Regions from separate parts of the Homo sapiens genome. Here all the other regions are linked to region 4. Evidence: fine-mapped expression QTL. A gene starts in region 4. Each other region holds a variant in brackets. All regions are shown on one strand. Distances are between the middles of the regions. Region 1 has its middle 110 kb from the start of SNORD17. Region 2 overlaps RRBP1 (ribosome binding protein 1). Region 3 overlaps RRBP1 (ribosome binding protein 1). Region 4 holds the start of RRBP1 (ribosome binding protein 1). Region 5 overlaps RRBP1 (ribosome binding protein 1).

Region 1 (6,250 bases), 170 kb after region 4:
CAGGTGTGAGCCACTGCGCCCGGCCCTTAAATCATTTCTTAATGGCATCTGGGAACTCGTCTGCTGCCTCTTGGTCAGCAGGAGCTGCTTCTCCTGTTATCCTGACATTTTTTAAGCCAAACCTCTTTCTAAAATTATCAAACCATCCTTTGCTATCATTAAATGCTCCAGCTTTAGATCCTCCAACACCCTTTTGCTTTAAGTTGTCATAAAACGACTTTGCTTTTTCGTGAATCATATTAGAGTCTCTAGGTATGCAATCCTGCACCCACATGAAAGCTGCATTTTCAATATGAAAGGAATTTTGCAAAAAAAGTGCAAAGTTTTTGTGCCTGCTGGCCCAGAAATGGCTTCACGAATTTCCTTTTGTTTTTTGCAATGGTTGTTAGGCTGGTTCATTTGTTTTTGAAATAGCCGGCAACCTCAGCTGCAGACATCAATCTATGGTAAACATCAAGCAATTCAACTTTCTTGTAATGTCATGGCTTTCCTCTGCTTCTTGGGAGCACCCCCAGCACCACTAGTGGCACTTCATGTGGGTCTCATGGTGCTATTCAGGGTTTATGGTATGCACTGCACACAAAGAAAAATACACGAGAACCAGAAGAGATCACTTTTCACTGCAATATGCAGTGTATCATTAGAGACAAACTGCTCACAGGGAGATGATCAGCATCATATGGTGTTTAAGTGGATACTTGCAACAGGAGCTTGCCACAATAGCAACAAGAGGTGGCTATGAAATTATGACAGTAGTATGGTATCAGTACAGTGAATTCGATGCAGTTATGATTTAATACTGTATCTTCGTTTGTTTCCATTTATCTTGATTGAAAGGCACCATGTATGGTCTGTGTCCGTATGTGTAAGTTTTGATAAATTTTAACTTTTTAGAATAGATTTGTGTATATTTTATGGTAGTAAATGATAAAATAGACTCCTATCTACATATATTTTATGCATTCATGACATACCTAACTTTTCCTGAATTTTCTTGATATTTCTAGACCATGCTGCAAGCTTTTTTAAATTATCACAAATCTCCAAAAAATGTTTATTGAAAAAAATCCATGTAGAAGAGGACCTGTGCAGTTCAAACCCATGTTGTTCAAGGGTCACCTGTAGTTGCAAAGGTGATGGAAGAGCTGAAAACCTAAACGGGAGGGTAGAGCAACCCAGAAAGTAGAAACTGCTACTTCCCCAGGGCTAGAGGAACAAGGGAAGAGAGGGTATTATTAGGAGCCGAAGTTATGGAGGAGACTTGGCCACTGCTGGAGGCATCACCTGAAACAGAAAGGGCTGGAGAGAGAATATTCCTGGCTTCTCTCTTCTACCAAGCTCAATCTCCTGCCACTGCTTCCCATTGACTGAACTTGTCAGGAAGCCAGGGTGCAGGGGAGCCTGGGAAATGTAGTCCACAGAGGTCAGGGCCGTGCAACACAGCACAGCAGAGAAGGATGAGGGATGGATCTGAGGACAAACAGGAAAGTGACAGTCTCCACCGCCTGAGCTGTGTGATGGGGATGAGAAGGGCCCTGTGCCTACCTGAAGGCAGAAGATTGTCTCAGCTGACAGCTTTGCGTCTTTTCTGATTCCTACAGAAATGGAGAGCATGAGCAGCAAGGGAGAAGTCTTTGTCACCCTATCCCCAACAGGAGGGGACTGTGGGAGAATGATCTTAGGTGGGGAGATGACCTGTGGTCTGGGGAACCAGGATGGCTGGGTTCTTGAGAGGCCCTGCCAGCCAGAGCTGGAGATCAATCCCCGCATTAGCAAGAGCAAACATCCAGCACTGTGGGGAAGTCACTATAGTAGCTGCCATAGATGAAGCATCCACTGGTCCAGGAACTAACCTTCATGCTTTAGGTGGATTATTTCATGTAATCCTTTTTTATTTTATTTATTTATTTATTTATTTGAGATGGAGTCTCGCTGTTTCTCCCAGGCTGGAGTGCAGTGGCGCCATCTTGGCTCACTGCAAGCTCCTCCTCCCACGTTCACACCATTCTCCTGCCTCAGCCTGGCAAGTAGCTGGGACTACAGGCGCCCGCCACCATGCCCGGCTAATTTTTTGTATTTTTAGTAGAGACGGGGTTTCACCATGTTAGCCAGGATGGTCTCGATCTCCTGACCTCGTGATCCACCTGCCTTGGCCTCCCAAAGTGCTGGGATTACAGGTGTGAGCCACCATGCCTGGCCTCATGTAATCCTTTTGATAACCCTTTGAGATAAGCACCAAGGGTGTTCCATAAAACCTAAAAAAAATTATAGCCAAAAAAAAAAGATTGTTCCAGTACACATATAACTGAACAAAAAAGTCCTGAAACTGAAAAATGAAAAATCCCAGAAGGTCTGAGTGTAGTGTGGCTGCTTGAGGCCAAATTAGACCTTCTGGTCAACATGATTTCCTGTAAGTGAATAGATAAAAATAAGCTTCTGTATATGTTCTATGTATTGAATCATACAGTATCACTATATATGTTTTTTCATTCAATATTTCTTACAATCCAGCATTGTAAAAGTTTCACATGACATGACACTTTAGAGGAAGAAATGGAAAATCAGGCTGGATGTGGTGCCTCACACTTGTAATCCCAGCAATTTGGGAGGCCAAGGCCAGAGGATCTGTTGAGCCCAGGAGTTCAAGACCAGCCTGGGCAACATGGTGAAACCCCATTTCTACAAATAATAAAAAAAAATTATCCAAGCATGGTGGTGCATGCCTGTAGTCCCAACTACTCCAGAGGCTGAGGTGGGAGGGTCACTTGAGCCCAGGAAGTTGAGGATGTAATGAGCCGAGATCATGCCACTGCACTCCAGCCTGGGTGACAGAGTGAGACCCTGTTGAAAGAAAGAGAGAAAGAGAGAAAAGAAAGAAAGAAAAGAAAAAGAGAGAAAGAAAGAAAGAAAGAGAGAGAGAGGGAGACAGAGAGGGAGGGAGGGAGGGAGGGAGGGAGGGAGGGAGGGAGGGAGGGAGGGACAGAAAGAAATGGAAGATCAGAGAAGTGGAATAACCTCCTAGGATCACACAGCTTGTGAATGAGAGGCACTGAGTTGCTCAGTGATGGAGTGTCTAATGTTGGGTGTGTATGTACTGACTGTGTCCCAAGGCCAATTATAACTTGGGGAAGGCACCACTACCTCCCTGTCATACAATGGGTACATTGTCTGTCAATGGCACGTGGTTGTACACACCTCCAGGGGTAAACAATCAAAAGTCAGGAGCCTCTCCAGCTCTCCCTCATAAAAATACTGTATCCTCTAGGGAGTGGGGTTCTCTAGTCCAGCCCCATGTGATATGCAGTCCCAGTGGGGCCGGGAGATTTGCCCAAGGTCACACAGCTGGTTAGAGGGGAACCACACACCACCAC[G/A]TCCTGCAGCTGCAAATCTGTTTCATGGCCTGCTTCCTCTCTTCTTCCCTAGAATGCCTTTTTTTTCTACCACAGAGTTTCTACAGTTCAAACCTGGAGGGCAGGTTGGGTTTTGTTTTGTTTTTCACACACTCCTTCACAGATTACAGGAGAGATTTTACTCTTGAACTGAAAGTAGAAAATTATTGTTAGCTTTAACACACAGCTCTTTCTCTCTTCCCCAACCCAGATACATTAGGATCCTCTTGTCCTATCAAAAAAAAAATAGTAATAATAATAATAATAATAATAATAATAATTCTATGGGGCAGAAAAGAGAAGAATTTGTGAGTTTCCCATTCCTGGCTGGACATTTCCCACAAATGGCAGTTAAGTCTTCATTGACTAATAGGAAAAGAGCAGCTCCAGCCGCATGACTTCACGGCACAGGCAAAGTCAAAGGCAAGGAGAGCTCACCTTAACTCTGGTGTATAGACACAGACTCCATGCCTCTTGTCCAACTCTTCCATCAGGGAGCCAGAACGTCCACATCTTCCAGGTTCCTGTAGGCTGTGTTTAGGGAGAGATGTAAGACTCTACTGGAACTTACGTGCTGGGAGGGCCAATGGTGCTGACACTTGGTCTTCTTGCTCTTGGCTGATGGATAGCAGGGAATATGAAGCTATCTATATCTCACTCAGATAGAGATGGACATTCCAGTCAAAAGCTAAGCTACTTCTGAATGCAAAGATGGTGTATCAGCTTTTGCTGCATAACAAACCACTCCAAAATGTAGTGGTTAAAATAACTATTGTTTATTTAGCTCATGAGTCCTCATATTAGCCATTTGGGTTGTGCTTAGCTGGGCTCATTCCTATGTCTTTGGTCAGCTGCTGGGTTTGCTGGGCCTGTCTGATCTGGGATGGCTCAGCTGAGACAGTATGCCTCTGCTCCACGTGGTCTCTCATCCTCAGCAGCATAGCCTGAGCTTTATGCACAGTAGCCTGGGCTTTATCCATGGTAACCAACAGGCTCCCAAGACAAGAGCAGCAGTACTCAGGGCCTCTTGAGGCCCAGGCTTGGAACTGTCATAAGGTGACTCCCAACATATTCCAATGGCTAAGTCAAGTCAAAAGGCCATCCCTGATTCAAGGACTGGAAATCAGCCCCAGAAGCTACAAAGTCACATTGGAAAGGGGCATAGATTTAGGGAGGGGGAAGGATTGTCACCATGTTTGCAAATGATCTTCCCCTATATCCATTTAAAATTCTTCTAGGAACAAAGTAGGGGTTTCAGGAAAAAAAAAAGTGTTGAATCAAATAATACACCCAAGTAAGAGTTTGTGGCACCAGCCTGTTGCACGCCTACTAAATGCAAGCCTTAAGCCTCTGCAGTGGGTAGACCCTAAGCAGTAGCAAGCTGGAGCCTGCTAGCACTGACTCATGAAAGCCAACTGTTAAATGCTCAGGAATTTTTTGAGCCAGTTGTTAAACCATCATAGCTTGAAACTGACCATGGTGGGAGCGTTTACACCATGGGAATTGGCTAGCACTACAAATCAGGGTGCTTTTTCTCCTGGAGAGCTGGTTTACCCACACACCATCCCCGTTAAGCTGAAGGAAATACTGTCTCTTCCAACTTGAGGAGTAAGACAGATACACAATGGAAGATTATCACATGCCAATCAGGCATGATGACTTCAATACAAGAAATAAACTGAGAGACTGGAGACAGCAGGGAAAGGAACTCATCATTTCTGATGTGTAGAAATTACATAAGGCATCATGGAGGAGGTGGTCTTTTCAGCTGGGCCTTGAAGGAAATACAGAGATAGCCACAGCCAGAGGGAAGGCTGCAGCCTGTGGAACAGCCAGGCACAGAAAGAGGTGCCTTTAGAGAGCAGGCAGCCAGCCTAGTGGAAGGGGCTTAGACTACAGGTGTTTTATTTAGTACCATTTTTGCTTCAAGTGACAGAAAATCCCAAACAACAATGACTTAAGCAAGTTGGTTTAATTCTCTCCCTGTAAGCGATTTTGGGAAATGATTGTGAATGATCAGTGCTCTGCAGGCACAGCGGCTCTGCCTCCGACCAGCCCTCACATCTCCTCTTGTCCCAGACTCTCCCAGAACAGGTGCATGGTCTTCTTGTCCTTCTCTCTCCTTCTTGGGTGCTGCAGGCCATCCGGCAGCCTGGGATCTGACATCCAGCTTCCCCACTCGCAGCTGTGTGAGCTCAGAAAGGTTGCCTAACATTTCTGAATCCTGGTTTCCAACTTGGTAAAATGGAGCAACGTAACTCACAGAGGGTTACAACAATGTGGGGTATAGTGTCTGTGCAGAACTTAGCATGGTGACCGACCCAGGGTGGGCACTCAGGGGAAGTAGGGTGTGTGTGTGTGCGTGCGTGCGTGCATGTGCGTGTGCGTGTGCGTGTGTGTGTGTGTGTGTGTGTGTGATGAAAGAGAGAGAGAGAGAGCCTCTCCAGGCCCTGGCCAGAGACCCCTTGGCCTCCTCCTGCCTGCTTGGAGAGGCAAGGTCTCTCTTTTTCCCAGGGTCGGGTGATGGAGCTGTTGGGGAGGGAGCCCTGGCAGCCTGGTCCTTGTGGAGTTTGGTTCTGCGTGGGCAGCTGTGTGAACCTTGACCGCTTCAGACCAGCTTCACTGGGGTAGCCACTTCAAAGGGCCCATGAGGATGCCTGCCCCAGTCCCCAGCCCATCCACCCTCACCCACAGCCCATGCCCCATGAGAGGGGACTGTGCCTGGAAAGGGCCTCTCTGGGAAATGATGTCTACCCCTCCAGGATCAAGGGGTAGGGCAGTCGGGTTGCAGCTGGGGAGGAGATGAAGGCAGGAAGTATGCTAGGTCAGTGACCCAGGCAAATATTTGGCAGATCAATGCT
Region 2 (6,250 bases), 53 kb before region 4:
ACAGGCAGTCAGCCCTGGGTCTTTGGCGGAACTCAGGGGTGAGTAGAAGCACCCCCCACACCCTGGACCCCCACAGCACAATGGGGTGTAGAAACACAAGCTCAGCCCTCCCCCGAGTCCAGGGCGGGTGCCACATAGCAGAACCTTTCCCGGCCCCACCTGTGCTTCCCTGGCCCGTCCGTCCCCGCCTGTGCCTGCCGCACTCACATTGTTCTTCACTTTCTGCTGCTCGACGGCCTCCCTGAGCTCGATGGCCTCCTTCTCCAGACCCGACACCTGGGACTCCAGCTCCTTGAGGCTGAAGGGACACAACGAGGTCACCGCCTAGGCTCCAAGGGGCTACAGCCCCTACAGATCCCACCTGAGGCCCCATCCAGGGAGGAGTACCTTCGAGGCTGAACCATCTGGCCAGGGACGGTCCCTTCTGGCTGCCCCCACCTCACCCAGCGTGAGCTCCCAGGGAAGCCTGAGCAGCCCCCAACACCCTCCCCTCCCCCCGCCATCCAGAGCACTGACCCCAGAGCTGTCACCAGAGTCCCAGTTGGTGACACCGGAGAGCTGGGTTTCCAGGAGAGGTGGAATCGTGACCCTGCCCTCAGAGCTCTCCTGGGGCCCTCACAGCTTTTCCCTGCATCATGTGACAGCCTCCGCCGGCAAATCACCCCAAGAGCGTCCCCAAAAGAATGAGACTCCGAGGAAGAGGTGTCAGCAGGCCAGTGGCAAGGACACACTGACAATCACACCCTTGGCAGCCACTGCCCGAATTCTAGAATATCTGGGGCTGAATCGCTCCTCTCTACTCCAGAGCAGGATGGCCCAGCCTACACATAACTTTCAGATCAACTGTTTGAGAAGGAAATAAAAGCACCAATTTCTGCCAGACACATCTACATGATGCAAGAAAATTCAGATTAATCCTAACTACAACATGAGTTCATTATCCTAGTAATATGCTGTGTGGCCCAAGAATCTGATCTTAAAACACAAGAGCAAAACAACAACCTCTCTACCCCAACAAACACCACCAGGAGAAACAAAGTTTGCCCATGCTTTTTGGGAAAGGAAGGTGGACAAGGTTTGGTTGTGGGTCATTCTGGGCCCTCAGGGCAGCTGGCTTCCTTTCCCAGTCCCCAAGCCGCAGAGCCCAAATGCCAGGGAACATGGGCTGTGGCCTGGGGAGCTGCCTCTGCTGAGAGGCACACAGGGAGGTGCTTCTTTGGTGACGAGGGTCAGGACAAGGGAACTTTGTGAACTGATGGCCTAGGACACATCTGACCGTGTGCGAGGGAATGCAGGACACCCTCCATGCCTCCCCCACCTACTGCTGCATGGACCCCTAGCCACGGCGGCCAGGACCTGCCTCCCCAGACTGTGGGCATGTGCTACAGGAGGCGAGCCCCAGAAGTGATGGTCACAAGGACTCCGGCCCCTGACTCGAGCCACCCCACCCAGGTGTTGGCCGGCCTTAGCAACAGCAAATAAACACTCCCCGAACATGGCCTGGCGCTGGTGCTGCTGACACGGAGGGAAAACAAGGTCTGGCCAGCAGTGAAGTCACCTCACAGATGGAGGAAAACAACGCTGAGACGCTGCCAGCTCTGCCCCGACGCCTCAAACCTGTGCTCCAGCAGCAAGCCTGGGTTCGCCATTCTGGGTTGTGCAACCATTTTTCCTGTTAGAGTTCCTGACCTCAGCCCCTAAAATCCCTTGCTTGTACACACAGAACCTCTGACCAGTCAGTCCCTTCCCACAGAGAGATGGACAGGTGGATGGACGGACGGCAGGTGGCAGGGGGTGCTCCCACCCTGGCTGAGGCCACTCTGGAACGATGTGATCACGAAGCTCTCTGCAAGGCCGCCTTCTTTCCCGCCCAGGCCTGTCCCGTCCTCTAAATCACCGGAGGATGGGGGAGGGAAGGGAGCCTCTGAAAGGGGCTCTTCTGCAGAGGACCTGAGCACCCTCCTGAAAACCCTGGCCCCCCAAGGGTCTTTGGTCCCCCGGGCTGAGGCTCAAGTGAGCAGGCAGGCTGCTTCCCCAGCTTACCGAGTCTGCTGCTGGTCAGCCTCCGCCTGGCTGGCCTGGAATGAGAGACAAAAGCTCCTTGGTCTCCAGGAGACTCATCTCACGCAGCGGGGCTAGTCCACCCACCTGCTAGATGGAGTTCCCTTTCCTCCCCGTGGCCCCAGGCAGAAGGCTGACCTGGACGTCCTGGGCATCCCGCGCCTGGCCCGCCTCCAGCAGGGCCTCAATGGAACGGATTCTCTCTGTGAGCTGGGAGTTCTCCGCCCTGGCCTCCTGGAGCTGCCCGTGGAGGCCACTCAGCTCCTCGCATTTGCTGCGCACCTCCGCCTCGGAGGACTGTAACTTGCTGTGCAGCTCTGGTGCAGAGGAAGGGAAA[CGAG/C]AAGTTAAGAGACTGCAAACCCCAGGGGGTGTGGAGGATGCCCTCACTGCTGCCCTCTTAGCACATGTGGGGCACCGAGGGCTTCCTCCTGCCTCCTCTGTGTGTCTGGGGCTCTTAAGACATACTACTGACCACTGGGGCCTCTTGTTAGCGGTTGAAGAAAGTGCCACTCTGGCATCACTTCTGAGAACCGTCAGGGTAGAATGCAATGCTCTCAGGACACTCATGAGAAAATGATAGAGAGTGGAAACGGACTCCAGCTGAGGCTTTTAAAGATTCATCTTCTAGAAGACTCTTTTTCTTACTGAGACCAGAAGTTCCTTAGAAAGTGGCTAGGTGGACCCCACTGCCACACCTCCCCCACCTCCCTGGCTGGGTCCCCCTCAACCCCCAAGACCTCTTCACAGTCGAGAAAGGCCAGGGGGTGACTCTTCTGCCCTGGGCCCCTTTCTCCCCTTGAGGTGTCCTCCTCCTCAGGTCACCTCAGACAGTCCCATGGGTCTAAGTGTCATCTTCGTGCCTCTGAGGCTGCACTCTCCCCAACCCCAGGCTCTGCCATCTGCCTCTTCTAAATGAAGCTCTAGTTAGACAACGCAAACCCAACATCCCGACCTCCCAGGACTCCTCATCTTCCTCCCTCGCCCACTGCCGAAGCCTACGAGCCCACACCCGCCATCTGTCAAGTTGCCCTCTTCACTAGCACCTCTGCGGCCACCTGGGCCCTGCCCTGTTGCCTTGGGCCTCAGCAACTGCAAGGCCTCATCCCTGGTCTCCATGGGCCACTCGTGCCCCTCTGGTCTGCTCTCCACCTGGTGTCAGTGTCCAGAAGCGCACATGAGACGACTTCATCTCCTGCCCCAAGCACTTCTGTCACACCTTCCACGGTGCCCAAGCTCCTCAGAGGGAGGGTGACCTGGCCCTGCCCCGCCACCAGCCTTCTCCTTCCAGCCACACTTGTTAGCCCATTTCTCACATAGGCCAAGTCAGTTCATTCCCACCTCCGGGCCCTGTGCTGGCCTCTGCCATGCATCCCCTCCTGCCTCAGAGAGTCTCCAGGACCACGCAATCTAAAGCCATGCCCAGCCCTCTGGAGCAGGGGCCGGGAAGCTGGGGCCGTGCCTCCCAACCTCCATTTTTCCAAGTGATATCAATGAAGCTTTCTTTGAACACAGCCAGGCCCCTCTGTTCACTCGGTGTTAATGGGCACTTTTGCCCACTGTGGCAGAGCTGAACAGTTGTGACAGAGACTGGCCAGAAGCATTCACCATCCATCCCCGACAGAAACAGTTCACCCGGTGTTAACGGGCACTTTTGCCCACTGTGGCAGAGCTGAGCAGTTGTGACAGAGACTGGCCAGAAGCATTCACCATCCATCCCTCACAGAAACAGTTGCCAACCCTGCCCTGAACACAGTCCCTGTGTAGAGGGCCCTGCTGTGCAATCCTGTCCTTGCAGGTGACTCTGTCGTGTAACCCCCAGTCCAGCCCAGCCCGGCACCCACGGCAGTGCTTGGCCTGGGGAGGGGCTCGGGAAGCGCCAGTGAGCCAAGGGCCACGGGCCTCTCACTGGCACCTTCAGCTCCCTTTCTCCAGGGGCTCTCGGCCCTCCATCCCTGTCACCCTTTCCATGATCGACTGCAGCAAGGGAACCACAGGCTTGTAAATCCTGCCTGGCCTTCTGGGCTGACTGAGCTGGGAGAGTAGAAAGGCCCAGAACACACATTTAGCTGAGACGCCTCAGGATCTCCCTGGTTCATCCACAGCCACTGCGGACCCAGGCTTGGGAGGGAAGCAGTGCCTTCCACCCCCATATGCCCTGCTCCCATGCACCAGGCCCTCACAGGCCTTGCCCCCCACTTCTAGCCCCTGTAGGTCCCATCCTCACAGCTCCATCCCCCCACCTCTGGACTGCGCCTATAGGCTGACTGCGCCCCCCGCCAGCCCCTGACTGGGCATAATCCCCTGCTCTTTGACTTTCTGAGGGGCAGTCAAGGGATCCGTGCTGCCCTCACCCAACAGGCCTAACCCACTGAGTTCTGGCACTGGCAGTGGGGCTGGGCCGGCATGCAGACCCAGCACCCTGCACTGAACCCCCGGCCCCACTGCCGCCGCCCTTACCGGCCATCTGCTGCTGTTGCTCCTGGGCCTTCTCGGCATCCGCCCGGAGGCTGGCGTGGCTGCTCTGCGTGTGGCACAGCTCCCGGCTGACCTCGTCCAGGCGCTTCTGCAGGGCCTCCTCACTCTCCCTGTGGGACGCCTGGGGACGGGCAGGGGAGTGGGGCAGTGAAGACGTGGAAGGACCAGGCCCTCAGCGGCTCTGCGGTGGAGGCGGACAGAGCTCTTTACCCCACCAAAGCCCCGTGCAGTCTCTGGTCCATGTGGGAAGGAAATGCATCCCTCGAGGCTCTAGAACCCGCACAGGCTTCACTTCGGCCAGAACCCTTTCATGGGGAGAAGGCAGCTGCCAGGGACCCACACTCACTTCCCAGTTCTTTTCTGAGTCCCTATTTTTACATTCTCAAGTGATTCATGAAGACATGGTTACTGCAAGAGTCCAAAGATACTGATTCAGAGTAAACTAGCGACATTTCCCAATCCAGTCCTCGATTCCTCTCCCAGGGGCGGACAGCTTGGTGGGTCTCCCACCTGCAGCTCCACATGTTACACACACACACGCACGGTGCACCACTGCGATCACGCTATAGGGCAGTGCTCTTAGTTCTTAATATTAGGTTGAACCACGTGAAATTGTCAGTGTTTGACCATTTTTACCTACAAAAATGGCAATTTCACATGCTTCAAAAGTATCTCAGAGACATTTCCTCACTCAGGACAGACAGGCCCACCACACCCTTGTTTAGGAGCCACACAGAGCTTCAGTGTTTGCCCAGTTCCCGGCTCAGTGTCAGGCAGGCTCTGGCAGTCCCAGTCGGTGCTCCACAGGACACCCTCATCCACCTGTAAAGGATTCCCACACACTGGGGCAGAAGTGCTGGCCAAGGCCTCCATTTAACCAGCCCTTTGGAGAACTCAGTTCTCCAAAAAGCCCGACCACTGATTATTCATTAACAAGCTTGTCTGGGGGCAGAACCAGGTAAGAGGGGCATCAACAGATGACTGCTGTTTGAATAAGAGGCTGTGAGTTATCCCTCGTCAATGCCTTTACCAAGCTGATCCCATCCACATCCATTTTCATTTTCTTTTAGGGCAATGGCTGCACAACCTGGAGCTGGGGTAACTGCTCAGATGAGCACCATCCGGGCAGAGGCGTGGCTGGAGCCAGTGAAGCCATCACCAAGGAGGTGGCCACTAGGCCGTGGTTCACGTGTACTGTGCAGTGAAAACTGGGGGCAGCTTTAGGATGGGCAGTGCTTTCTGCATTAGAACGTAGCAGGGGATTACTCAGTTCCAACTCCTAGGGAGGAAATGAAAGAAAGGAGTGACTGCAAGCTGCTCCCAGAAAGCACACCTGCTTCTCCTCTGCCAGGTGTCCCGGGCAGGAGCCTGCCTTGCACCCACCGGCTCCAACACCCTCACACCTCTGCCTCGACCAGGATACATAGGGCAGGGTCATTACACGACTGGAAGAAAACACACCAGCTGCTGCTGCTTTTTTTCTTTAAGAAAAGGGACTCCAGCTCAGACTGCAGGGAGACTGACCACACATGTTCTTCCGTTTGTTACTAACATTGATTAGAACTCTGATTCCAGCAACAAGCAAACAAAAACCCACCCACCTTCAGGAACCCCAAACTTAAAATCTTTGATGGAAACCACGGGCCTCCATCTTAAGACCTCAGGTGACAACTGTCTTTGCCTTGAAGAGAATGTTGTTAGCACAGCCAATCAC
Region 3 (6,250 bases), 64 kb before region 4:
GGGTCGTCTTCAGAAGCTCCTGCAGTCTCGTGGCGGCGCGCCCCAGGTCACTTGTTAACTTCTTCTCTTTTTCTAGTCTCTCCTGATGGTCAGAAGGTTGACGGGCATCAGCCCTTGCACCGGCAGGAGGGCCACCCCAGCTATGCCCACAGGACCCTGACGCCAGGGGCTGGAGCCCTCTGGGGACACAAGGAAGGCAACTCCTGGTCACCCGGAGATAGGTGGTGACGACAGGGAGGAAACCGCCCATGCTGACCGTGAGGGCTGGGTCCTGTGCTCTCAGCACCACCAGAACTTCCTGGGGCAGGAGCAGTTTACTCCGCACTGTCCAAGGCAGCACAGGAGACACACCTGACTACTGAGCGCTGGACGTGTGGCTGAGGAACGCACTTCACGTTCTACATGCTTCACATTTCGACAGCCACCAGGACTAATGGCTGCCATGTGACCATGTGACACTGCAGGGCTAGGAGTCCCCACCCCAGCCCCGGGTAGTGACAAGGGGAACCAGTGCCAAGGGCAGGTCCCGGTGGGGTCGGCTCTCCCCTTCCTGGCCCCTTTCCGAGGCCAAGAGTGGCGCCAGCCCCAGAGCAGACCCTCCAGGTGTGACCCCCGCCCCAGCCCCTGCCTGCCTTCAGCTGTGAGGCCTCCTCTGTTTCTGAAGACTCTAGGGGGCCGGCTGTGCGGAGCTTCTCCAATTCTTCTTGTAACCGACATGCCGAGGTCTGAGCCTTGCCGGAGAGGGAAGTGAGGTCTGGGTGAGACGTCTTATAAACGGCTGTGCTGTCAAGACCCTACCGAGCACGCCTGGGGACCAGGGGGCCCCCCCAGCCTGATGGAGCAACAGCTCCATCCTGTAGCTGGAATGAGTGGGCCAGACCCACAAGTTCTGACCCAGCCCCAGGCCCTCAAGGCTCCTCAGGGATGCAGACCACCCACAGGGCTCCCAAGGTGCCTCCAGCCTGTGCTCCACCTGCCCGGGCCCCACCCACTGCTGCCCAGAAGGCCCAGGCCCAGCCCAGGTGCTGCTGGGCACAGCCGAGCGGGGCAGGGCTGACCCACTCATTCCCTGGAGACTCAGGGCCCAGGGGCTGATGGGGGCTGAGAGCCACCAGGCAGGGCCTGACCTCCTCAAACTCGGCCGTGAGCTTCTGCCGCTGTGTCTGCTCATCCTCCAGGATGGCTTCTGTCCACTCCAGCTGCGTCTTCAGCTGTGCAAACACCGCAAACATAACCCGGCAGCCCGGTGAGGAACCCTCCAGGGGCCCAGGGATCCAGCACAGGCACCGCTCTCTAGCTGCTTCTAGCTTCCCCTTTCCCTGCCCCAACGCTCCCCTCGTTGGGGAGAGGGCACCTCAGCCCCTGGTACAGACTTCGGTGTGGCTCAGGAGCAGCTGATGGGGCCTCTGCAACCTCAGGGGCCTTTAACGAGACTCACAGGACAAGAACGATGCCTCCGAGCCCTGGCCCCATGACAACCCCCTTAACAGCCACACCATGGCCACCCCAGGGACAGGCCCTGCCTCTTGGTGAGGACTCTTGGTGGCTATTGCCGGGCTCAAAACTCTGGAGAGCGAATATCCTGCTAGCGATGTCCCAGCCGGGGTTGCAGTGGGAGACAGTCCCCTTCGATGGCTGCAGACCCTGCCCAGAGCTGCTCCTGAGCCCTGTAGGTGCAGACCCCAAATCACGGACTCCCTCTTCGAGTCCCACCTCCCCCCAACTCCTCCAGCCTCTCCACCTGGCCACCTTTCTGTTCCATGCTCTGTGGCTTTCTCCGAACCTGGATGATCCAAATGGGGCAAAGCAGGGTGGGGTGGGGAAGCAGCGGAGGCTGGAGCAGCCAGTGCGGGGTTTAGTCCGAACGGAGGCAGCAGGGCCTGCACTCTTCTGGGATTAGTGATGTGTCTGGGGACCAGCTCACCGCCCTAACCTGAACGGGGTCCTGCTCGGCTGGGGGCGCCTCTGGGGAGGAAGCTGGGGCCCCAGCTATGTCACCATCCTCTACGTGGCTCTTCATTTCACTCAACTGCTGCCTGACCTGGAACAGGAAGGGGTGTGTTTGCAAATGCACAGCCAGTCGCACACCCACCATGCTCACTCCTGCAGGGACCCCCTCGGAGGACCGTAGCTGCTCTCAACAGCCAAAGTCCCTTCAGGGGACCTGGCTTGGTAACTGTGACCTATGTCTGGCCACCCCCGCCGCCAACCTGAGCCAAACCAAGGCCACCAAGCCTCTGGGCTAATGAGACCCAATGTGCTCTGCTCCAAGCCCAACCGGAGGGGAGCCCTCCCTGGGAGTGAGGTGACCCCTGATGGGCATGGCCCACAGAGCAAAGGAATCCGAATGGAACCGGGGGGTGGCCGCCACACTGTCTACACCCCCCGTTTCTCCTTCAAGGATGCAGTCCACTGCTCAGAGCCCTTTCCGGGGTCTAGAAAAGATTATGAGATAACATTCTTGCCTAACAAGGTCCCCCACCCCTACGCTCCATCACTGGGGTTAGGTGGCATATCTGGCTGCACCCAAACCACTGGGCCTGCAATTTGAAGGGCAGGTGTCACTCGAGAGGCTCAGGTAGAGGTTCCAATTGGAGACCCAGGTGGGGCCCTTGGCATAAGCTCCCCAGGGAACATGGGCGGTCTCTGACCCTGCGCTGAGGGGCCACCCCAGGTACGTGGGAACCCCAGACATTCTTCCCTCCCTCTGAACAGCCCCTCCCAATGCAAATAACGAACTGCACAGCTGGAAGACAACAGAAACTCCAGGGGGTTTTCTCTGCACATCCCCGGCCTGGGCCATGCCCCCGGGGCCTGTCACCCAGACTTCGCTCAGCCAAGGCTTCAGTGAGTGGCCCCTAGACACAGGAGGAGACCTGGCCTAGGCAGCACTGCCCTCTGGTGTTCTGGTCCGGGTAAGACCTGAATGACCAAGGGGGACCGAGGGTGTTGGGAGCGTGTGCCGGACTCACTGGCTGCTGCAGGGGGAATGCCAGCCCATTTTTATTTAAAATTTCCCAATTTCTCCCTGTTGACAACTAATTCAAGATTTAAAAAAACACCGCAGATCAAACAGAACATGTCTGCGGCCTCACAGGGTGCTGCTCACAACACCAGCCTTGGGGCGGTACCAGATCCGGTGAGGCTGGGTGGAGCCTGCCAAGGAGCTGGGACTTGGCATCAGACACCTGAGCTGAAC[A/G]CCAGGAGGGACTCAAGAGGCCACCTGCACAGGCAGAGCTCCAGTGGTCTGCCAAGGGGGCTGCTCTCTGCACCCGGCAGCTGGTATGGGGCCGGGCGTGGAGCAGGTCTTCCCTGCATGCCTGTGGCTTTGACTGAATTGATCTGAGCTGTCACTGAGGTGAGAAAACCCACAGAAGGCACGGGACTTGCTGAGAGCCCCAGGGCGATGGGTGGCCAGGCCAGGAGGAACCCCCAGGCTTCCTGGTCTTGTGATGCCAGGGACTGCAATATCCCTGACGCCCCCAGGTGACTACAATGGGCTCACAGGGAATGCAGACGCCCAGAGCTCTCACTACCTTGAACAGGGGACCAGGTAGCCAGGGGACGGGAGATGGAGTGGGAGCACCCTGGTCCCAACAGCCACAGGCCCAGCTCAGAGTTCTGGGCAAATGTGCAGGAAGGCCCCCAGAAGCCGGCCCCATGCTGCTCAACGGGTGACACTGTCCCTTCCCTAGGCTTTATCTTTGAGTGGACACAAACGCATGACTGGCAAATGCATCTCACACACGCAACGCCCCAGGTCACACTCCTGGCATGGGGACATGGAGGCCACCTACCAGGGCAAGCTCATCGCTCTGTTTCTGGGCTTCGCTCTTGGCGGCATCGAGCTGAGATTGAGATTCTAGGAGAAGTTGCCTCAGCTTGGGGAGAAAACAGAGGCGGGTGATGGGAAAAAAGGAGAGAAAAGGAGAAAACCAGTCCCCGTGAGTTAGCGCCGAAACATAAAACCTAACACATCCACTTAACCAAAACCCTGAGGAGGGTCACAGCATCGGGCCGGCACAGGGCTCGCCAGGCTTCCTACAGCTACGATTTCTTTTTTGAGGACTTAGGAAGAATGGTGTTCACTGCGTACCTCTTTCAGGCCTTCACAAATGTTTACTGATTATCTCTGGCAAAAAAGGGCCAAAAGTTGGAGATGATTTTTTTTTTCAGAGATGGTCTCAATCTGTCATCCACGCTGGTCTTGAACTCTTGGGCTCAGGCAATCCTCCTGCATCAGCCTCCTAAGCAGCTGGGAACGGAGGTGCCCACCAGTGTGCCTGGCTTTTTTTTTTTTTTTTGGTAGAGATGCGGTCTTGCTATGTTGCCCAGGCCGGTCTCAAATTTCTGGCCTCGAGCAATCCACCTCAGCCTTTCAAAGTGCTGGGATTACAGGCATGAGCCGCTGTGCCTGGCCCAAAAGTTTGAGATTAAACCAGAATTGGGATACTGGGCTTGTGCTTCTGCTTCTGAAGAGCAGAAAAAGTGTCAGATCTAAATCCACTCCCCACCAGATATGACATCAGCAAGCCAGGCAGAGAATCCCCTTGCGGAGGGATAACCTAGAACGTCAAACGCCTCCCTCGGGGCAGGGCTGCCTGGCTCTGCCCCTGTCCTGGCTGGGAGGCTGCCTTTTTGAAACCTGCCCTGAGAGACACCTCAGGCCTGACAGCCCAACGAGGGGCCTGTGAGGCTTCGGGCAAACGCCTGAGGACTCGGACTTCAAGGCTTATGTCACCGAGAGCTGCTCCCACAGGGCTGAGGAGAAGCAGCTCAGGGAGGACCGCAGATCTGCTGGGCAGGGGCTGCACTCCTTGGGGGGCAGACTCACCCCTGCCACCTCCTTGGCGTAGTTCTGGCACTCGGCGCTGGCGGCCGCCATGTGCTTTTCCAGCTCTGCCTCCAAATGCGACGTGTGCTCCCTCACCTGGACAGATGCACAGACACGCACACGCATGCGCCAGCAGCCTCTGCTCAAAGGGCACTCACCTCAGGGAGCAGGCTGGCCCTGGGATAGGTGAGGCCTCTCGGGAGATCCCTGAGGCCCACCAGCTACCAAGCAAACGAGAAACTAGTCCGCGGCAAGAGAACCCCTTACGGAAAGTGGCAGGCTGCACCCGGGCACTCCTGGGGACTGACATGCTCTTAGATTTACTTGCAAAAGCAGGTACCAAGGGTACCTTCTCCAGGGCTCCCTGTGGCGTCTGAAGGGGGCAGTGGGGCCACCTTGACTGTGAAGGCCGTGGCAGAAGCCCTGTTCACCAGGGCTGGGCAGGTCTGCACAGGGCCCGTGGCTGGGTCTCAGGGTCCTCTGAGGTAGTCAATGTCTCTCATTAAGGAAAAACAGGATGGACAAGATCCCTTGGCTTGAGAGAGAATGCCTCTCTTAAGGCACACGGTCCATGAGGAAGAAATCAGTGAAGTGTCCTCTGCATTAACGTCACTTTCAAAGAGGCTCCCGGGACAAGAGAAAGAGTTCTCTGAGCAGAGCACATACCTGGTCCGAACTTTCAAGTTCTCCTTTTAGCTTCTCTACAATCTCTTCGAGATGCTTCACTGTGACCCGGGACTACAAAGCAAGGGGAAGGCTCCGTCAGACACGAGCACCTGGGGGTGTCTCCTTCCGAGGCCATGCTAGGACCCGAGCGGGACTGACCCAACTTAGGAAGCCCCGGGGGTGCCCACTCCGCCCAGCTGGGACGGTCACCCTGGCGCCATCTGGCAGTGTCTTCCTAGGCGGGGGCCTCCTGGAGGACGGACTGAGCTGTCATCCCGCAACTGTGCTTCATAGGGTGTCGTGGAAAAGCCCCACCGAGACACACGAGTCTCACAGGTGACAGAGACAATCCTGTCAACTCTCCCCTGGGCTTCATGTGCTCCACGGCGCCGGGAGGCAGGCAGGGCTGCATATACCTTCTGGAGCTCCTCCTCTGCGGCGCCCACCTTGGCCCTCCACACCTGCTCCTCCTCCTCCACGCTCTTCTGCAGGTCTCTGAGCATGCCCTCCTGGGGGGAAACCGAGGTGAGGCAGGGCCCTCTCCCTCCCGAGACCCGCACCACACAACCGCATCTTCCTGTCCCTGCAGCCCTGGTGACCTGCCGTGCTCCGCCTGCTGACTTCATGAGCGCCAGCGTTAGGTGGGGAGGGAAGGCAACCACTGTCCTGGGAGGGAGGTCCTCTGGCCAGTGGGCCAGTGTGGCTGCAGTGCCAGGCAAGGAAATGAGGTCTGTGACCTGCACAGGACCA
Region 4 (6,250 bases):
CTGTGTGGCCCCCCTCCCACTCCTTTTTCTTGGAATGCAGTTTACAATGCACACAAAGAGGCGGGACTAATGCTTTCTCAGGGTGAGATCTTATCAGGTGAAGTGTATCAACTGCCACTAGTCAACTGGTTTTGACCTACAGAATGGGCAATTTCATGTGGTTCAACATATTACCACATGATCAAGAGGAACAGGGACATGAATGTTTACAGAATACCAGCTGCCTCTACATCAGCACTGTCTAGAACTTTCTGTGATGGTGGAAACCATCTACAGCCACGCTGACCAACTTATGACTACTGAGCACCTGAAATGTGGCTAATTTGACTCAGAAATTGAATTTTTAATTTTACTTAATTTGAATTGTTTTAAACTTAAATTGCTACTTGTGGCTACTGTATTGGACAACACAGTTCTAGACAGTAGCTTTTTCAGGCAAGAACTAGGTCTCACTTGCGGTGTTTGAAGGCCCACCACACAGGAGACCCTCGGTGAAAAAAATGAAATGAAAAATACCTTCAGCACTGCCAGATTTTCAAAATGCCTCCCCACCTTCCTGCCACTGAAGCTCTTAATTTTGATCTTCACGTTCTGTGTCCTCCCTTGGGTAATTATTGCCCCAGGAAGGTGGAGGTATATAGCCAGGAGGGAACATTTGGAAGGCCGGGCCCACATCGCCTAGCAACTGGGCAACAGGAACTGGCCTGACAACCTTCTGACCAGCTGGACCTCCACATTCTCATCCACTGAATGGGTGACAACCATTCCCACCCCCTAGAACAGGGTTATTTTAAGGCCTAAATGTAAACCACAGTTGTGGAATCTGATTCTAAAAAGTGAACCTTAAAAACCAAGTTGGGCTAAGCTTCATTTATCCAATGAGACAGCTGGGAATAGTTTAACAGGTATGGGGGCGCTGTCCGCCTGGTATAACCAATATTTATGATGTTATAGGCCAGGCCTTAACCACTGCAGGCCCAGCATGCACAGACGGACAGCACAGTCCCTGCCTTCATCATTCTGACTTGACCATTATTTTTGTTTCTCCTGAAACAAGATTTTAGCAAAGAAAAACTTGCTGTCTCAACAGAACTGTTGATCCTCTATGTGTCATTCATCTATTAGTTAAAATTCCCAGGGCTAAAAAGACAAGAAGAGTCTGGGGTCCCGACACTTTTAAAAGGTGTCCCTGCTACATAATAAATCAATACTCCAATTCAATCACTGGCATTCAACCATTTAAACTGAGTTTGCTGCTATGTAATTATTGCAGCCTGTTGAGTTAGGGCTCATTTCATTAAAGAGCATAATTGCTCAAATGTGACTTGATTTAAGATTTATTTAAAACTCTTCCATCACCAAAAAATACTCATATACCATGAACCACTGTAACTTCTTAATCTCTCTGTAAATGTTCAGAGGCAGATTCCTAAGTATGAAAGGTGAGAGTTGTTATAGTGCCTAGAGCTCTAAACCCTCTCCTAAACCCCAAGATCCCTTTCTGGTTTCCCCTCCCCCAACCTTAGCCTCCTCCAGGCCTCCACTGGCCCAAGATCCCTGCAAGCCGGCTTTGCGGTGCTCCATGTAAAAGGAAAACTTCACCTACTAGGAGGTCTGCCCCGGCCTTTGCTTCAACAGAGAGGGAAATGGCACCTCCAGGACCTCAGAACCGGAAGCTTCTTTCTGGAAGGGAAAGAGGTTGGCATATGATAGTGGGAGTGACCTTTGGCAAGTTCGTAAACGAGTCAAGACATCACACAGTAAGTGACATGCTGCAGGGTCACAGATTTCTCTAGGTGTCGGATTAACAGGAAGTTAAATCAAACAAGGAGTGTGAGGAGGGAGGCGGGGCAGTGGGAGAATGCCCCCCAGCTGCACAGGGCGGGGTAACATTCGCAGTTGTTCTTCCTGGGAGTGCCAGACAGACGTCCTGGGTCTCTGGGGACACCCAGTTCTGAAGAGGTATCTAATGTGAGATATGAGGCCCTACCAGGCCCATTTCTCCAAATTCCTGAAAATGCCATCCAGATGGCCCCTACCCTGAAGGTTCCAGCACGCAGAGTGAATAGCTGAGCAGTGACGTGGGAGGCTCCTCAGGTCCCTCAGAGTTTCATTTCCTTGGTGCTTCCCAGTCTCTCCTAACCTCTGACCTCTCAGAGTAATTGCCAAATTGCCTTCTGTTTGTACAAGGTCCCAGCACTTCCCGGCGTGGTTCCCGACCCTGTGAGTGGGTGGTGCTGTCTTCAGGCCACAGATAAGAAACTAGGATTCAGAGGGGCTATGGGACCTGCGAGTAGGCGGCCAGTACGTGGTCCGGGGTGTAGAACCCCGGCTGTGCAACTTCTGCAGCCCCGCGCCCGCCGCAGTGCCGGAGCCAGGCCCCACCTTCCTCCCGTGTCCAGCACCCCCCAACAAAAGCATCCCAACTGAACAGCCAACACTTGTGGCTCCTTCCTACAAGTGCTGGGTCTCCACAGCTTTCCTCGCAAATCGAAGCTAACAGGAGCCCCGATTTGCAGACCAGGAAATGGAGACCCCGAACGAAACAACTTGGTCGGGGTCACCCTCGCCAGCCGGGGCACTCTAGAGCTAAAACTCGCGACTTATCATTCGGAGAGGGGTCCCTGAAGCACTGCGGGCGCCCCACTGGAAGCGCAGACCCCGGCCTGCCTCCCCTAATCAGGGCGCAGCGGGAGAGCCGGCCGGGCCGGGGCGGGCACCAGGCCGGGTGCCAGCGCGCTTGGCCGGCCCGGAGGTGTCCGCTTCCGCCCGGGGCTGGCACCGCCGGCCCATTCATCGTGGCCGCGGGCGGGGCGGGCCGGGCCCCGGGCGCCCTCGTCCCCCCGCCGGGAGCCCTCGAGCCAGGCTCCGCGCAGCCCAGCCGGGGAAACGGTGGCCCCGGCCCCGCCGCCAGGGGGAGCAGGGAGCCGCCTCCCGCACTCCGGGAAGTTGCCACCGCGGCCGCCCGGCGTCCGTGCCATGGACAGACCCGGTCCCTGCGCCGCGAGCCCTGCGGCCCCGGCCCGCCCCGTCGGGGGCCGTCCCAGCCCCGCGAAGCGCCAGCGGGCCGCGGCCCGGGACCGGCGCGCTCGGCCCGTGGGCCCCCATTCAATCCCGCCCTCCTCCCCTCGGCCGGCCTCCGCCGCCTTCCGCCCGCACCCCACCCCTCCGGCCCGGACTCCAGCCCGGCAACGTCATCCGGCGGCTTCCCGAAACTTAACCCCTTCCTCCGCCAGCTGTGCGCCGCCCCGCCCCGCCCCGCCGCCAACTTTCTTCGCCCAACTTCGGAGCGCGCTGGCCGGCCCGACGGCCCTGCCGGGAGGGAGGGAGGCAGGGAGCGGTCGCCACGTCGCGCCCGTCTGCCGCCGCAGCTCCCCGGACGGCGAGGGCCGCGGGGTCCACACCACGGGGCGCGCCCTGCCTACGCCCCGGTACGGCGCTTGCCCGGCACCCCCGCCCCGAGTCCGACCCCGACCCCGATGGTGCACGGCCGCGGCGGCAGGCGGCGGGCGGCGGGCGGGCCGGGGGAGGGGCCGCCGAGGAGACGTGTCACTCGCGGCGCAGCGCGGCCGGCCCCGGCCCCCCGACGGCCCGGCCCGCGCGCGGCCGCTGCAGGGCCCGGCCAAGTTTCTTACCTGCAGCCAGAGACGCGAGAGGGAAAGCGAGAGGGCAGGAGCCGCCGCCTTCGCAGCCGCCGCGGAGCCGGGAGAGAGGAGCCGGCCAAGCCTCCGCCAAGAAACCGCCCCCGAGCAGCTGTAGACGCTGCGACCCTGACGCCGCCCGCCCCGTCTGCCGTCCGCTCCGGCCGCTCGCTGGCTGCGTGCGCGCGTGTGGAGTCGTGGCACTTTCTGCCTCAGAGCTGGCGAACGGCCCCCTCCGCCGGGATCGCCGCCTCCTGCCTTCCCCACCCGGGCCAGCCATTCATCGAGCCGCCTCTTCCCATTGGTCCGCACCCCGCCACTCTGCCGGTCGCTGGCCAGTCAGGACGCGGGTGGCCGAGCCGCGGCGGCGGCCATTGGGCAGAGAGGAGGGTCTCCACCTCGGCCAATGGGAGAGGGGAGGAGCTGCGGGGAGGTGAAGGGGGCAGGGCTGGGGAGAGGCGGGGCCGAGCGGCGCGGCGCTCGGCCGTGCGCGGGGCGGGGCGGAGCAGGAACGCCCCGCCCACCGAGGGGGGGGTCTCCGGCCAGCTCCGCCCACTCTGGGCCCGCGGCGCTCCCAGCAGTCTCTGACTAGGATCCGGCTCTGCCTAGGCGGGAAGCAGAAGGTTCGGGTCCCGGCGACCCCGGGCCTGCGCCTCTGGATACCGCTGGGCTGACATGGCGGTGGCTGAACAGGGTTGCGCAACCGCGAACAGCCAAGGAAGCTGCTTTATTTAAACCCAACTAACTTCCCCCGAAGCAGCGCCCCCTCGGGCCGCCGGGTATGAGGACAAGCTCTGCTGGGGGTCAGCCCAGGGAGAGCAAGTTCTTATCATCAAAGAGATTGCAATCAGCACCAGAAGGAATTTCCTTCAGTAAATGGAGGAATTGGGGTGGAAGAGCCAGAAGGTGCACGAGGAATTGAAGCGGATGTCATCGCCCTCGTTGTTAGGGAGGGTACAACTGAGGCACGGTCTATTTAAGATACTCAACCAAATCACAGCCGGCAGAGCAATAATTACAATCCACTCTGTGGCGTTTTATTCCATGCGTTGGGGAAGGTGAGAGGTTCTAACCTAAGAAAACTCATCCGTGTCCCACAAAACGGAGCAACTGGTACTTCCTCATTCCCTGACTTTCTCCCCAATATCAGCCAACACTCAGTCTTCATAATTAGTCAAGTCTTTAAATTAAAATAATTTTAGGCTTGATTTTTAACCATTATGTCAGCGTCTCTTAAAGCCAACCCTTTGAACTTGAGCCAAAGCCAGCTTCTTTGGAATTTTGGATTCTGAGCGACCAAAGGCTGCCTAGACTGCCCCCCATCACTTCCCTAGCTCCTGTTGCTGCAGAATCCCGTGCCTAACATCTATTTCTTGGACAATTTTCAATCTTCCCTGTCCCCATTTGTCACTAGTACTGTACTAGCTGTTGTTAGAAAGATGTGAAAAATACAAGCCTTCATGGGGAATAAAGAGCGATTGGGTTGAAATTAAACTGTTCATTCCTATTTTTAATCTTGGCGGTTCCTTAGCCCATTAATGATTAATCAGCAGGAATTAACCTGGATTAACTCTGGAACACTCAGTCATTTTCCAGCAGTGAGACCCGGCTTCAAATGAAAGTCAAGAATCCCAGCTTCTGGCTGGCAATTGCTACCAATGAGTCCTACTTGACCAGGGCTGGGCCATCTAACCTTTCTGAACATGGGTATACTCCTTTAGGACAATCACTCCTTCCTCTGGGTTTCAGGGAGGAAATTCATTCGTTCATTCATTCATTCATTCATTCACCGGTGTTTGTGGAGTGCCCGGTATACAGTGCTAAGCTGGGCAAGCAGCCTAGAATGACACATAGGTCCAGTGAAGACCCAGCTGCCCTCAAGGGCCTGTCCAGGGACAGGGACCTCCTTTATCCTGTTCACTGTTTATCTTTTTCCGGAAGCAGATCCTGGCAGTAGGGTTTGTTCAATCATTCATTTGGGGGATAATCATAAGAAACATTGGTGGAGAAGTGGGATGAGCAGGAGCCAATAAGGGGACCAACATCAAGCCTGTGACTGGTGTGGGCACACAGGGCTCGGCGTCTCTGGGGATGCTGTGAAACTGTAGAACACACCCCAGAGACGTCCCAGCTGAGGGGTGAGGACCTGGTTATTTATCCAGCCACTCCCAGTCCTCATTGGTTAACAGCTTCTTCTGGGGGGACTTTAACCCCCGCCCCCATCAAGCTGGAGAAAGCCTTGCAGCAAGAAGCCCTTGGCAGAATGGTGAGTGCCTGGAGGCATGTCGGGGGCCACAGCAGTGTCTCCCACACTGTGAACCATAGTCCGACACAGCACCTGCACAGAATAGAGGCTTGTGAATATACGTGTTCTGTAAATATTGTCCCATGAGCGATAACATTACAAAGTCCTTAGGAGTGAGGAGTGTTTACAGAAAAGGGGCTCCCTGTTTGTTCCCTTACATAACTTAACATTTGATTTGGCCTCAACACAACATTTGTTTCGGGATGGAAGAGCAGCCCTGTCTGAGCCTTTGCATTTCCTCTGTCCTTGCCCCTCATCTGCCAACAGCCAGCCCCAATGTGCTGTGAAGACTTCCAGCCTCATC
Region 5 (6,250 bases), 34 kb before region 4:
GGATTGTATGTTGAAATAACATTTTGGATAAACTGGGTCAAACAAAATGTATCGTTAACATTCAGTCCATTTGTTTCTTGCTGGCCTTTTTAAATGTGGCTGAGGACATTTACATCACATCCATGGCTCACACGTGTGTGGCTCACATTCTGTTTCTCCTGGACTGGCTGGCCTATTCCTTTCCAGAACCAGGGACCCCCAAAGTGCCCCCTGCTGAATTCCTGGCAGCCCCTGGTCCTACAGAGGTTCCAGAGTGACCCAAGAGCTCTGGCCTCTCTTGAACTCTCTCCTTAAAGACCACCCTTCCAGGCCCCACGGCCCCTACTGCACTGCTGGGTGGGGAAACATCTGGATAAGGCAGCTGGAGGGCACGCGCTCTAGGACGCCGCTTCCTGCACAGGGGCAGCATGGCCACATGCTCACCCGCCGCAGGCTCAGTCCACAGAGTGCTCCCGAGAGTGTTCTCGGAGCGGCATTCTCATAAATCTTTATTAAAACTTTCTAACGTAATTCCATTCTATTAGATATTTTAACAGAAAAATAAAAACTTGCAACACGCGAAACAAACGCAAAGCTGCGTACAGCAAAATGTTAACGCTCTCCTCTGCCACCTCTCATGGCCCCCCAGAAACTTCCACAGCCTTTGCCACACTCATACAAACACTACCTTTTATACTGTTTTTAGAGAGCTATAACTTTACAAATCATTTTTCATTAAATCTTTTAGGTAAAAACTCTGCTGTCTCAATTGTCCCCAAATCAAGGGCAGCACAACTGAAAGAAAAAAGGAAAGCCCTCAGAAGCAGAGGCAGGATTTCTGGGCCTCCAGATGAGTTGCATTTAAATAACGTACTAACGGGAGCCTAAGGCGTGCCCAGCACATCACTTAGGGCTCCAGCAAATACTCGAAGATACCAGTAATCTTCCGAATTGTGAAATCTTAACGCACTAAACTAAGTCTCTCAGACTCAACACCTAGTCTGTGAAATCACAGACTTCAAAAGGCCCAGGGTGCAGTGAATGCTGGAAAAGCTCAGCTCCCTGAGGGCTTGCTCCTGCGGCTAACGCTTTGCCCATCTTGGTGGGTATGAAATACCAGGAAGGGACAGGCCAGGAGGCCTGGGGAGTGACCAGGGAGCAGGAGACCCAAGAGTAGAGACGCAGGCCAGTGTCTCACTTTGATGGATAATCCAGACCTCTGTCTGGCAGGGGACACAGCAACACCCCAGGGGCCAGGCCCTGCAGGAATGGGACAGGTACTGTGACAAATAACCACACAGGCCTGGGCTCAGGGGGGTGGCCTCTCCTGAGCTGGGTGGTCCTGGGCACGGCACTTCACCTCCAGGTGATAGCTGCAATGGGGGAATCTGAGCCAGAACCCTCAAAGCCACAGGCCTGCCCAAGAGCCTGGAAACGAGATTTTTAAGTGCTATCTTCTCATCTTTACTGCTGACAGCTAACTCAATAAAAAACAAATAAATGAATGAAACCACTGTACAGATGAACAAACACATCCGTGGGCCACGTCCAGTCTGCAGGTCACCTCTGTCCTTGGGCAGTGGGGCACCAAGGTCAGAGCAAGGCCTCTGGGACCAGGTGGCCTGGAGTCGAATCCCAGCTCAGCTCCTTCCCACCTTTGTCCTTGGACAAGTGGCTTAACCTTCCTTTGCTTCTGTTTCCTTGCCTACAAAACGGGGATGATCATTGTTCCCCTCACAGCGTGGCTGAAAAGAGTAAGTTGCAACGTGCTTGGAACCATGCCTGGCGCAGGGTAACGCACAGCAAAATAAATCAGCATGGCCGGCCTTCAAGCAGCTCACAGCAGCTCAGATAACGCACCTCACACCCCAAATTTCAAAATGACTCTCCCTTCTGCGACCACACTGGGAGGCTCAGGCACCTAAAATTAAACTCATCTGGCAAAGAGGCACTTAGTGTTCTCTCTCACTGTCAACTGTGGCGTCCTTGGATGAGGCTTTTCTCTCTGTATAATTTCCAGGATCCCCCATGGCCAGGGCTCAGGCATAGAAGGAGGATCTCAGCCCTAAGTGGCCTCATGAGACTCAGCGGCCAGCCCCCCACATCAGCTGCTGGAGCACCCCTGCACTGTGCACACCTGGCTCTCTCAGTCCACGGGGAGGGTATCAGAACCACTCCAGGAACTGCCGCCTGAGCCCTGGCAGCAGCTGGTGGTTAATAGGAGGGGATTATCGCCTTGGCCCTGGGATGGGCCCCACAAAAGGCTCCGGCTCAGCTCCAGCTGCTGCTACAGGTGCCCAGCAGCCCTGATCAGGGCAGGCAGGGCCAGGTGGTCTCTAGACACAAAGTATGTACCACCTGCATACCCAGCAGTTCGTAAATTGCTGGGCCTGGAAAGTTAAGTTATAGGTTGGGCTGTGGCCAACAGAGGCAGAGGACACAGGGCCATAAGGCAGAAGAGTGACACAAGGGGGACCTGGAGAACAATTGTGGCAGCAATGCCGAGAAAGGCTTTAAGGCATTGGGCCAAGCATAGCTGGGTAAGGACACGGTGAGGGGCTTTGGGCCCTAGCGTGTCAGACTTGCACCCGAGGTTGGACTAGGTCCAAGTCTTCATAGGCCCTGGGAATCTGGATTTTATTCTGTAGGCAACAAGCGATGCCTAGGAAGGAGCGTTTGAATTTGAGAAAAAGATTTCAGGATGCCCAGGGGGATGCGGCTGGAAGCAGGCAGACCAGCTGGCCTGGACCCTGGTCCTAAGAGCCTATCCCCGCTGGGTCCTAAGAGCCCAGGACCAGGATCTGGGCCCGAGTATTCAGGAAGCTGAGCTGGTGGGAGAGAGGCCCAGGTGTCAACCCAGGGACTCTGGCAATGGAACCTGAAACAGCATGGACTTGAGGGCTTGGGGAAGAACTCCAGTGGCAAAAACTCTCATTTCCTAAGAGATTGTCCAGATCAGTTCTGAGGGTGCCTCCCTCAGACACACACATGTAGTCTGAATAGCTGCTGCCTCCGGGCCTGCACGGGGTGACTCCAGACAGTGCAGACCAAGGCACCCAGCATGGCTGCCCAAGCCAGATCGCAATCTTGGCGTGCCTTCCACGCCCTGTAGTCCCCAGTCACCCGACCCAAACTCAGGTCTGCTGTAAGAAGGTGAAGACCCTGGGGCCCCAGGAAAGGGCTCCCACATGCCTCCTGGAAGCCCAGCACCACGCAAGCAGTCATCAGCCTCTGCAGACCAAGATTCAGAGGCTGAGGACAAGCTCCCCATTCCTGCTGACCCAAAGCCAAGGGCATCTCTGTCTCTCTCAACCTGAGGAGCCGGCTCCCTTCAGGGTCCCACCCCGAGGTGGGACGCAAGACGCTCTCTAGGGAGGAGCTCCGGCCAACATCACTGCTGGCCTCTAACTGCTCGTTCTTGGACTGTGGCCGTGAAGGCTCCTCCTGAGCCTGTGGGGGAAGTGAGCTTTATGAGACCCTGGAGGAAATGAAGATCTACCAAATGCTCCTGGAGGCAAACTGCGACTCCTGCTCTCACTCATTGCTCATCTGCCCACAGCTGAGGCAGGCCCTGGGCAGTGCACAAACAGTGGACTCCAGGCCCAGCTCAGGCCACAGAGCCCGGCCTTGCCCAAGCGCTGCTCAGCGCTCCTGACAGGAAGCAGGCCAAGGAGGCGCAGCTGCACTTGACCCCAAATGCCAC[G/A]AACGGTCACATCCGCAGCTTTAAGGGCAATGGAGCTCAGTACAAATAATGTCAAGAACAACCCAATTCAGGGCCTTTCAATCAGTCCTTTTCCTTTAGTTGGAGAAAAACGTAATCGGCTACAAACTTGGGGACTGGTATATTTAATGGTATCTAATGGAATTTAAAATATCCTATAGATTGAAGAACTGTTTTCCTCTTTAAAGTTTTGTTTTTTCCTCCAAATTTCAACAAAACCAATTTTATACCTGGAGTTAAAAAAAACCCACATCACAATATTTTTAAAAGAACGACAATTCCTGGAGGACCTCTGGGCAAGGCCCTTCCCAAGGCACACAGGCTGGCCCAAGGAGAATACAGTTTAAACAGCAATTAGGACTCTACCTAATGCCTGCAGAAAACGGCAGGGGATTTTTAATCCCAGGCTGTCTGACCACAGCCGTCTGGGGGCAGTGACCGGAGTCCCAGCCTCAACACGTTTTCAAGTGGCTGAAAAGAGATTTCTGGAAGAGTGTCATCTAGCAGCTTCTCACACTGATACTTGGCTCGCTTCCCTAGGGGATGTTTTTGTTCTTCTTTAAAAAAAGAAGAAGAAAAGAAAAAGTTGGGTTTGAAGAACTTCCACAGAAAGTGAATAAAGGGTCATAAGCCCCAGAGAGTTTTCTTCAGAGCTTCAGACCCTGAGAAACTGAGTTAGGTTCAAAAGAAAAAGTATCTGACTTGATCTCCGTGTACACCTCTCTGTGCAACTGCCGGCGAGAAGGGCACAGGGGCACCTGCCGGGCAGGGCGGGGGCCTCGGGAGGGGCTGCCCACACCGGCCGCTCTGCCATCTGCTGGTCATGTGCATGACTTCTGGGAAGTCTGAGCTTTGCTTTCTGCTTCTGTCAAACAGGTAAAAATTCAAATCCACCTTAGAGAATTGCACGAGGGATAAAGGCATGGAAACCAGCCTCCTAAACTGCACATCTGAACAAACACCTGGCTGGGGAGAGCAGTGGCGTCAGACCTGCTGTGCTAAGCAGCGCTGGGTTTGGAGCAAAGCAGGCTACACATGGGGAGGACAGGCGTGGGTGGGTGGGTGGGTGAGGAGCTGGGAGCAAGGGGTGTTCCCATCACGAAGTCAAATTGTTTAAGGGCCCTGCTACCCTAGACACCTTGAATACCGTTTCCTGGGGGCTTGACAACTCTTCCCCATACCCCCTGACCTGTGACCCCAGCCCCATTAGATTGCAGAACACGACTTGGGATTTTAGGTTACATTTCCTATTGTAGGGGTAGAATGGGGGCTCAGCGAGACTGCACACGACACAGAGCTCACAGGCCCCCTCCCACCACGGCACTGCCAGGCTCCAGAATGTGGGAACTGCCTTTAACTTCCCACCTTACCTCAGTTCATGAATGCCTCCCAGATGCCTGTGTGCTAGGGCTGGGACACGCACTGGCCTCCTTCTGGAGGCCTCAGAAGAGCTGGCACTACCTTTCCTCATTCCAGACCCCAAAAGGAGCAACGTGTTCCTTGCTGCTCCTCAGAGGACACAGGGCTGCCTCAAAACACCCAGAAGGATGAGAGTTCCATCAGCTTTGGTATAATGAGGGCCTGTTTATTTGACTTAGAGACACATAATGGAGTTGTTTCTTCTCCATAAAAAAAAAAAAGTTATAGAAAAACTGGAAAATGCAGAAGGGTGAAAGGAAGATACTAACATTTACCCATAATCCTACCTCCCAAAGGTGGCCTCTTTTTCCCACATGGACTTATCTGACAACGTGGCAAGAATGGGCCTCTGAAATGCCTGTTTCTGAGTGTTTGCCACCTCATGGAGGTTGGGTGGGTTCTCCTGGGCCATGACACAATGGTCTCTCTGGCCACAGAGTAAAACTGGCTTGCATCAGCAGGCTGGGGAAAGAGGGCCCCGCAGAAAGCAGGCCCACAGCCAAGACAGAAGTGCCATGTCCCCAGGGTTACCCACCCCCGTCCATTAGGCAGAAAGGTCACAGGTCCTTGGGTGAGCTCCAGACTCCCCAAGAGTGCAACAAGTACCCTGCATCCCCGCATCCCCTGAGTGACGTGCTAGCAGAGGTAATGAGGAAACACCTGTTTCCAACCAGCAGCAACAATGAGTGAAGCAAGCTCCAGTTAAAAGTACACTGTTCTGGAGCTCATGCTAACTGTGGGGTCTTCAGAATGTACATATGTACTTCCTCAGTCTACGCCCACACTGTAGGATCCAGACTTGATTCCAGGTGCTGGGTGGGACAGCTCTCCTGCCAGTGTAACACCCAGATGGTGATTAGTACAAGATCAGGGCAGCCCAGGTGGGAGGCAAACCAGCATAATCCTGCAAACAAAGACTCAATCTGAGGATAAAAATAGATTTTTTTAAAAACCAACACCACTGCATACACACACGTCTTGTGTTAGAAACTTGACTTTCCTAATAGACACTGTGCATAGGTGCTCAGTTAACTATCGGAGAACAAACCAGCTAAAGCCTGGACACGTGCGTCAGCTGACAGTACCCGGAACACGGGGAAGCTTCCATTCTGGGGAATTTCCACTTCTCGA

Evidence for each region.
Region 1: its variant is fine-mapped to the expression of RRBP1 in whole blood (TOPMed, PIP above 0.99).
Region 2: its variant is fine-mapped to the expression of RRBP1 in whole blood (TOPMed, PIP 0.98).
Region 3: its variant is fine-mapped to the expression of RRBP1 in whole blood (TOPMed, PIP above 0.99).
Region 5: its variant is fine-mapped to the expression of RRBP1 in whole blood (TOPMed, PIP above 0.99).

Annotation. Positions count from the first base shown.
Region 1 is chr20:17,853,059-17,859,308 of GRCh38, forward strand. No RefSeq gene overlaps it. Among named protein-coding and RNA genes, the nearest start is that of SNORD17, 110 kb to the right of the region's middle. RefSeq lists an enhancer at 6,183-6,250. The variant G/A (reference allele first, on the strand shown) is at 3,372.
Region 2 is chr20:17,625,305-17,631,554 of GRCh38, forward strand. It overlaps RRBP1 (ribosome binding protein 1), which reads right to left. Exons shown (of 25, transcript NM_001365613.2): 9 at 4,519-4,657; 10 at 2,200-2,378; 11 at 2,044-2,078; 12 at 208-298. Among named protein-coding and RNA genes, the nearest start is that of RRBP1, 54 kb to the right of the region's middle. The variant CGAG/C (reference allele first, on the strand shown) is at 2,399.
Region 3 is chr20:17,614,799-17,621,048 of GRCh38, forward strand. It overlaps RRBP1 (ribosome binding protein 1), which reads right to left. Exons shown (of 25, transcript NM_001365613.2): 17 at 5,917-6,009; 18 at 5,501-5,572; 19 at 4,835-4,930; 20 at 3,798-3,881; 21 at 1,934-2,041; 22 at 1,128-1,211; 23 at 633-731; 24 at 1-82. Among named protein-coding and RNA genes, the nearest start is that of DSTN, 48 kb to the left of the region's middle. RefSeq lists an enhancer at 1-563. The variant A/G (reference allele first, on the strand shown) is at 3,200.
Region 4 is chr20:17,678,393-17,684,642 of GRCh38, forward strand. It overlaps RRBP1 (ribosome binding protein 1), which reads right to left and starts at 3,850. Exons shown (of 25, transcript NM_001365613.2): 1 at 3,636-3,850; 2 at 1,607-1,683. RefSeq lists enhancers at 1,144-2,343, 2,535-3,207, 4,461-4,520 and silencers at 2,781-3,090, 3,121-3,170, 3,201-3,530, 3,761-4,180.
Region 5 is chr20:17,644,835-17,651,084 of GRCh38, forward strand. The region is part of intron 3 of RRBP1 (ribosome binding protein 1); the gene reads right to left. Among named protein-coding and RNA genes, the nearest start is that of RRBP1, 34 kb to the right of the region's middle. RefSeq lists enhancers at 3,392-3,481, 3,546-4,249 and silencers at 3,662-3,751, 4,401-4,530. The variant G/A (reference allele first, on the strand shown) is at 3,683.